2 separate regions of the Homo sapiens genome follow, and region 1 is linked to region 2. The links come from fine-mapping of genetic effects on gene expression. A gene starts in region 2. The other region holds a variant in brackets. All regions are shown on one strand. Distances are between the middles of the regions. Region 1 overlaps APBB1IP (amyloid beta precursor protein binding family B member 1 interacting protein). Region 2 holds the start of APBB1IP (amyloid beta precursor protein binding family B member 1 interacting protein).

The links. PIP is the estimated chance that this variant, and not a neighbour inherited with it, causes the effect.
Region 1: its variant is the best candidate, but not a certain one, in a credible set for the expression of APBB1IP in lung (GTEx, PIP 0.53).

What each region holds. Positions count from the first base shown.
Region 1 is chr10:26,538,286-26,542,684 of GRCh38, reverse strand. It overlaps APBB1IP (amyloid beta precursor protein binding family B member 1 interacting protein), which reads right to left. Exons shown (of 15, transcript NM_019043.4): 11 at 993-1,103. Among named protein-coding and RNA genes, the nearest start is that of LINC03028, 39 kb to the left of the region's middle. RefSeq lists an enhancer at 1,865-1,934. The variant G/A (reference allele first, on the strand shown) is at 2,716.
Region 2 is chr10:26,436,226-26,440,624 of GRCh38, reverse strand. APBB1IP (amyloid beta precursor protein binding family B member 1 interacting protein) reads right to left here and starts at 2,284. Exons shown (of 15, transcript NM_019043.4): 1 at 2,170-2,284; 2 at 1,772-1,973. RefSeq lists enhancers at 1,951-2,030, 2,591-2,720, 2,438-2,967.

The DNA of each region.
Region 1 (4,399 bases), 100 kb before region 2:
TTATAATAAGTGATTGTAATTGTTCAGGGAGTCAAAATTACTAAATATGATTGAATTCACCTGGTTATTGCATTTGACTAAAAAGAAACGCAGACAAAAACTTACCATAGTCCTTAATCCAGAGTTCTGCAGGCATACAGAAAGACCCGTAACGCATCACATGTGTGGTTGTAATAACCCATCTCCTGATCAGACTGATCTGAGATTCTAATTTTAAAAAATGTAAATCGGCCAGGAGTGGTGGCTGATGCCTGCAACCCCAGCACTTTGGGATGCCAAGGTAGGTGGATTGCCTGAGCCCAGGAGTTTGAGACCAGCCTGGGTAATATGGTAAAGCCCTATCTTAACTAAAAATACAAAAATTAGCTGGTGTGGTGGTGCACACCTCTAGTCCCAGATACTTGAGAGGCTAAGGCAGGAGGATTGCTTGAGCCTGGGGGGCTGAGGCTGCAGTGGGCTATGATTGAGCCACTGCACTCCACCCTGGGTGACAGAGTGAGACTCGGTCTCAAAAAAATGTAAACCATATCTAACATTTGATAATACCTATTGCCTTTTGACAATATACACCTGAAGTTTCATGACCCAGTAATTAAAACAACTTTTTTTTGGCTATTTTCTATAAGTTGTCTAGGAAATCTTGCAAGTTTCTAATTTCTAAAATCTTCTTATGGTGGAATGAGCCCAATAAGAACTGAAAACTTTTTTTAGTCTTATCGATAACATTATAAATTAATTTGTTTAAAATGTGGAACTTTCATTTTCAGAAGTGAAGAAATCCCCAGACAGAGTTACCTTAAAGTTTTAGGTTCAGATAGGAGGCTTTGGGGAAAATGTCCCAAATTGATAGAAATGTTTCCCTCATTCCTATTTTGGTTAAACAATTTCTTATTGTTACACATATGGCTAACTATAATTTAACATTTTCTTCCTTGAAAAAAAATTAACTCAAATTGCTTATAAATCTAAATGAATGACTTCTTATAACATACCTTTAAAACAAAGCAATAGTCAGTGGGCGCTTTATATTTCATTTTATGCTGAGTCCCATAGTAAATGTTGACATTTTCAAACTGTATAAAACACGCCAGATCTCGAGATGTCTGAAAGACAGGGAAAAAAATAAAACTTCAACTGAGATGACAGTTAACAATTTTCCAGAGTTGTCCTTCATAGCACAACTAAGGATTATATTTTAGTAAAGAAAATATTGACTTTTAGGTAATTTATATAAACATCTGCCATGTATAGGTTTTCTCAAAGGCAAGTCTGAAAGGTTGGAATGGAAACTGATATGGCCAAGTTGGGGGACAATTTAGTAAGATCTATACATAAATCTTTCCCAATATGAAAGATATTGAATGTTCCCAACACAAAGAAATGATAAATGTTTGAGATGATGGATGTGCTAATTACCTTGATCTGATCACCATACATTATATGTATCAAAACATCACTATGTACGTTATGCATATGTACAATTATTATTTGTCAATCAAAAAATAAAATTAATTTTTTAAAAAGAGTGCAGCCATGAAAATCGGTGCCACTGACCCAGAAACGGAGTGAAAGATTATACTGCTGTTCTAATGCCTGTCTGGGGACTCCCAGAGTCAGGATGGACTGTCCTTGAGATGTCATTATTGATGCAGTCGAGACAAGGTGACCGCTTAGCCAGAAATTTCATTTTGACTTTTGCCATTCTAAGTCCGTGATGGATTTTGCGATTGAGCATTAAAAAAAAAAAAAAGTCCCCCTCAGGACGAAAAATGAGAGATAAACTTATGCTCAGTAAATCAGCACACACTTCATGCACTTCCTCCTGAGAAAAAGGATTTCTTTCACAAGTTCTCTTTACTGCAGGCAGTGTTGCCATGGAAACAGAGACCTCTCCTCCACGGATAACAGGCACTGTGAAGACTGCAGCCTGTAATCTACATATTTGGTTACACTTCAATTACAAATGTGTTCCATTAGTTTTTTGTTTCGCTTTCTATATTTCTTTACTAGTTAGTGAATAAAGAATAGATGGCAGAACTATTTACACCTTAGTGCACAATTATTTCTTTACATATGCTTGTATTCTTTTCTTACAAGATATTTTCTTCTGGATGTTCAAAGTTTACATTTTTAAGTTACAAACGAATGCATATTAGTCACATTTAAAATATATATATATATAAATAATAAAATGCACATCTTCCTCCACCACCCCTTTTTCTTATTTTGTTCTTTTCTCCAAAGGTACCATAGTTAATAGTTTGGTAGTATTCTATTCTGTTCTATCCCATGACGTTGCCCAGGCTGGTCTTGAATTCCTGAGCTCAAGCGATCCGCCTTCCTTGGCCTTCCAAACTGTTGGGATTAGAGGAGTGAGCCACCGCCCCTCGCCTTCTTTTTCTTAACATTGCATCTAGGAGTCTTTCTACATCAAGACATGAATTAATATATGACATTCATTTTATGGCTGCAGAGAATTCTACGGTACAGGTGTAACGATTTATTTAACTATTCTACTACAGATGATTAGAAGTTATTTCAATATTTAGCTATTACAAAAAATACTGTGCATGTGAGCTTATATTTTTGTGAGATAGATTCGTCAAGCATGGAGTTGCCATTTGAAAGGATTTTTACTCCCTGTTACATGTACATAGATTTTGCTAAATTGTCCCCCAGTTTGGCCGTATGAGTTTCTATTCCAAGCTCCCAGGC[G/A]TGAGTGTCTCTTTTTCTTACCCACTTCCACCAAAATTTGGATATTATCTATATTGTTTATTTTATCAATCTCATGCTTAATTTTCATTTCCCTGATCAGTAATGAGACGGAGCAACTTTTAGTTATGCGGTGGTTACCGGTACTTCTTTTTCTGTAAATTTTCCCTTTAAAAGCTTTGCCATTTTTCTGTATGTTTATCTTTTTCTTATTGATTTCTTGAAGTCTTTATATTTTATGGATATTCATACTTGTTTATACATGTTGCAAATGTACTCTCTCACTGTAGTCAGTCTTTCACTTCTTGTTTGTTATCTTTGGCCATAAGGTATTAAAAATAACTTTATCAGGTCAAATCTGGCCATTTTTCTCCGTTATAATTTTGAGTTTTTATTCTTGCTTAGGAAACCTTTCTCCAGCTCAAAATTATAAAAACATTAACCTATATTTTCTTTTTTTTCTCCCTTTCTTCCTTCCTTCCTTCCCTCCCTTCCTCCCTTTCTTCCTTTCTTCCTTTCTTCCTTCCTTCACTCTCTCTCTTTCTTTCCTTCTTTTTTTTTTTTTCAGGATCTCATATTGTCACTTCAGCTGGAGTGCAGTGGCACGAACATGGCTCACTGAAGTCTTGACCTCCCGGGCTCAAATGATCCTCCCGGATCAGCCTCCCAAGTAGCTGGGACTACAGGCATGTGCCACCATCCCCACTAATTTTTTTATTCCTTTTGTACAGACAGGGTCTCCCTATGTTTCTCAGGCTGGTCTTGAACTCTTGGGCTCAAGCTATCCTCCCACCTGGTCCTCCCAGAGTTCTGGAATTAGAGGCATGAGCCACCGCACCCAGCCAGCCTCTGTTTTCTTCTAGGATTTTATACTATTTTTCTCTAAAGATATTTTAATCAATCAAGAATTTAGTTTGGTACATGGAATGAGGTAGGAAATTATATTTCTAAATGGATATACAGTTATTTCAGTTCTATTTGTTGAATACCACATTCTTTCCCCACTGCTGTGATATAAATTCCAACTTTAACTTCTCTGATATTAGACGGTTGTCTGTCGACCTGTTTGTCTCTAGCTGTGCTGTTTTTATCTAATGTTTTGGCACAGCAGGAGATCTACCTTGATGTTCTTCACAATTTTGGGAAGGTCTATTTTGGAACAGTGTCTTTTTTCCATGAAATCAGTCTGTGAATTTCAAGTAAATAAAATCCTACTGATATTTTTATTAAAATTATATTAAATTTATAGAAAACTGGGAAGAATTAATAACTTTTCTTTTAGCAACATGGTACCTTTCTTTTCTTTATCTTCTACTTTTTTTTTTTTTTTTGAGATGGAATCTCACTTTGTCGCCCCAGGCTGGAGTGCAGTGGCATGATCTTGGCTCACTGCAACCTCCGCCTCCTGGGTTCAAGCAATTCTTCTGCCTCAGCCTCCCGAGTAGCTGGGATTACAGGCGCCCGCCACCACGCCTGGCTAATTTTTGCATTTTTAGTAGAGATGGGGTTTCACCATGTTGGACAGGCTGGTCTCAAACTCCTGACCTCGTGATTCGCCCGCCTCGGCCTCCCAAAGTGCTGGGATTACAGGCATGAGCCACCGCACCTGGCCTGCAACATGGTACCTTTCTATTGATTCAGTTCTACTTCATTTCTTTTAATACATTTTATATTTTATGCCATATGA
Region 2 (4,399 bases):
AGTTATATTTCTTGAGAAATAGCAATTTAAAGATTTCAAAATATAATATTGACCTGTTCAAGTTTGGGCTGTTTCTTATCTCAGTTTTCAAATAAGATGGAAATTTGCCTTTTTACATATAGGCCAGATATTGACTGCGCTTTTACAGGAACTTCTCAGAAACAAAAGACCTCAAAGATATTGATATTTCAGAATGTAATCTGTTATGGTTATGATTATTTTCTCCATTTTTAAAAAATTTGTGATCAGCAATTCTAATGTTGATATAATGTTGCCAGTATTCCAGTTGGGACCAATTCAAAGAATTATAGCAACTCCTCAATTGCTATTTTAAGAACAGACATAATGTAGCCCAATCATCTCACTTTACTGACGTTATCTGAAGTCCAGGGAGAAGTTATGCAAGTTAATCAATATCATCCTTATCTAGATGGGGGAGATATAAGAGCCAGAACCCAGGTCTCCCAAGTGCTGAGAAAAAACCCAAATATTAGTAATTATTAATAGTTTAAGGATTAATAGTTTAAGGACACACATTATTAATAGTTTAAGGATGAAGTTAAATTTCTTAGACCTTTCACAACACACGTTGAGCAGACAGGAAATACCACTAGAAGACTTTATAAAGTATTTCTCAGCAGATCCTTGCTAATTTCGCCAGCCAGCATCATCGTCCTGGCCCATGTGCCACCCATTATTCCAGTGAGGCCAGAGGGAAAATCGCTGCTCTAGGTTTATGAAAAAGGACAAAGTTTTCCTTTCTGAAATTTCTCTCTGGAGACCCAGATTTTAAAATGAATAGTAGCTAGTACCGGCACCTTTGTTTAAACCACGTTATGCCACCAGAAAAAAACATCTGGGGGCATAATAAACTCACGGGCCCTTTTCTTTTGTTACTTTCCTCTAGTACTCCGTCTCGTCAAGGATCACATTAAAAGTTCTTTTGAACCGCTATGCCCTGAGTGTCTAGGAAACACATTTCACGTTCCACAGGGGTATGAACTAAGAAATACCTTAGCAGGAAAGTAAGAGGTACACCGGGCTAGGTCTTTGGTGGAACACCTGCGCAGAGGTTCTTGGAGACATTAGGACACCCTAGTTAGTTTCCTCCATTCTGTAAAAGGCCCTCTGGATATTCATTTCAAGCCAAATTATGAAACTTGTGCCTGGTGTCCAAATCTATCTTTATGGTATTTTAAAATGAAAATGAGAATATTCGGGGGAAAAAGTTATTTTTAAAAAGAGGAAAGAGTTGTCCAAAAGTTTTAGAGGAAGGAAACACTCTAAGATGCATCAGACTGCGAGCCACACTCAAATTCTCACACGGCTGGCATTTAATCCACATCTAATCTTGGCCCCTCAAGAATCCCTCCAGGTTCCGGGAGACTGGGGCTCCCGGACCTGCTGACCTGCTGACCTGCTGACCTGCTGGACGTGCAAGGGTTCATAGCAGTTCCCCGTTTGACCTTGCAGCAATTTCCTGGGCAGGAAATCTGTCAAATCTGTTGCAATAGCTCGGGAAAAAGCAAACCCGAACCCCAAACCCTCACACCCCCACCCTCGCGAGCCGGGTCCAGAGTGGAGATCAGCGGAGGGGACCCTGGGGACCCGCTGCGCTCGAGGGCCACGCCTGGGGGCACGCGTTCACGAGGCCAGATCCTGGAGCTGCCCCCGGCGTCGGACCCGACGGGCTTGACAAACGGGTTCCTGACAGCCCCGAGGGGCCCGTGCTGGCGCTCCCAGGGCTCCCGGGACTGGGAGCGCCACTTACCTCGACTGCTCTGCGGGGCGCTGCGGGGCGCGGGAAGGCGGCGAGACTCCGGCCGGGAAAGCGACGCGCGGTGCAGACTGCCGCACCCGGGCTCCAGGTCGCTGCCCCGGGGAGGAAGTGCTGTCAGCCCTGCCCTTCCCACGCAGCGCGCAGACGTGTGGCGCTATCCGAGCTGCTTTGCTCCGAGGTGCAAGGAAGGCCCCTGGTTAGAGACAGTGGGACAGACAAACATATGCGTAAAGGACTCCGAGTTAGGGGCTGCTTTCTCCAACTCATCGAGTCTGCGCCTGATTTTCTCTCCCCCATCCCACCCCTACTACACAACCACCTTGAAGGGATTTTTATTTTATTTTATTTTATTTTATTTTAATTCTGGGAAACGTTGCGCCTCCCCCTACCTGTGCCGCGCGCGCCCTTCTCTCAGGAGCGTCTCCTGGCGAATGGAACCATTTTGCAGCCTCGACGCAAGAGGGACTAAGGGATTGGGGCCTAGTGATGGTTCCACCAAAGACTGAGAGGCCGCTTTATGTTGCAACGGTCTCCCAAAGTGTTTACTTCAGCACTTTCTGGGCTTCCTCTTTTGGGCCGGTTGTGCAAGGCTTCCCGGCCGCCTGCAGCCCGCCCTCAGGGGACGCGGTGCAGGGCTGGACTGGCAACACGCGCGTCCCGGCCGGAGTTCAGCTGTCTCTCGGGTGGGGGTGGAGGAAGGGCGCGCTGGGCGGAGGCCCTTTCTCAACCATCAGGTTGGTAACCTCACCCTCCTCCCTCCCCACGTTTAACCACGCTCAGTTGGCCGGCCAGGGTGTAGAGGAATAGCACTGTCTTCATTGCTCGTAGAAATCCAAAATGGTCTGAACCCCGTGGAAGAGAATTGAGCAATATCTATTTAACTTATGTATGGATTCGCCTTTTGACCCCGTCATCCCACTTCCAGGAGTGTGTTACGAAGATCTGCTGATGAAAATAAGTAATGCACACGGCAGAGGGCATTCATGGACTCACTATTTGCAACAGCATAGGACTGGCTGGAAATAGCACCTGTCAGTTGGGAGTGGAGTTTCCTGAGAGAAAGTCGCTGGGGAGGTCTGAAAATACAGAAGTTAAAATCAGTTATGATTTGTAAATGCGGTTGAATAACCCTCCCCTTCTCCTCTACAGCTGTGTCTTCAAAGGCTTATATGTCAGGGAAGGTGGTGAAGACATAAAGACAGAAATTAGGTGCATGTGTTAATTAGGCAATTTCAAATAGTTCTGTCATTTATTTAATGAGAAACTATTCGTAAGCACCAACACTTCTAAGAACAATGAAAATAGTTAGAGGAAACAATTTCTGCTCTCATGCATGGTGCATTCTAGTTGGTAGAAAGCAGACAATAAACAAATTAATATTTAACATGTCAAGGAATGTAACTAGTTTTGAAGGAAGTTAAAAGGTGAGGGATAGAGAGTGATGGGCATGGGGATGGGGTTGCTGTATTAATTAGGGTAAATAAACGATAAATAAATAGAAAATATATTTTCTCCTCATGATTTTCTTAATAACAGTTTCTTTTCTCTAGCTTTCTTTATTGTAAAAATACAGTATTTATCTAAATACATATAACATAATATGTGTTAATTGACTGTTTAATATTATCAGTAAGGCTTCTGGTCAACAGTAGGCTATTCGTGGTTAAGTTTTGGGGGAGTCAAAAGACATACATGGATTTTCAATTGTGCAGCAGTTTGGTACTCCTGAAATCTGGCATTGTTCTGTTACAGTAGGTAGCTAGTCAGGCATGAGCAGGGCAGGAGAGGGCTCCTCCCACCCCCTACCAGGAATGTCAGGTGACCATCAGGTGATGATCAAGCAGTTGTTATCAGCCTTACTGATAACATAGTCGATTAACTCATATTATTTTATATATATTAAATACTGTATTTTTATAATAAAGTAAGCCAGAGAAAAGAAACTGTTATTAATAAAATCATAAGGAAGAGAAAATGTATTTTTCATTTATTTATTTATTATTTATTTATCCTAATTTTTTTTAATATAGCACCAGGGAAAGGCAGTCTCCCAATAGACAGAAACACCTGAAACTGGTATTTCTGTCTGATAAGTGACACTTGAGCTAGATCTAAATGGCATGAGAGATTAATCCACACTGGGTTTTTAGATGGGAATATTCCAGGCAAAAGGAACAGCACATTCAAAGACCCTGAGTTAGGAGAGCACTTAAGATATTGGAAAAACACCAAGGAAATTAGTACGGCTGAGCAGAGTGAGATGGGAGGGACAGACATGAGATGGGATCAAAAGGAAATGGTGCCCAGATTGTGTGCTATTTGGGAGCTGTGGAAGAGAATTTGATGTGAGTGAGATGGAAAGCCAGTGGAAGGTTCTGAGCAGAGTTGTAAGTGCTACATAAAATATAAAATCAAACAATGAGAGTGACTTTCTTGGGGCAGGGAAAGTGGTCAAGGATCACCTCTTTACAAAGTAATGAGAAGGGGCAGCCATTCAGAAACTTGGGAAAGGATTCCAAGAGAAGGAAGAACAAGAAGAGGGGCTGAGATAGGAACATAGAAAGTTCAAAAGAAGGCAGGCCAGTGTGCCTGGAATGTTCTGAAAGAGTAGGGCAGCAA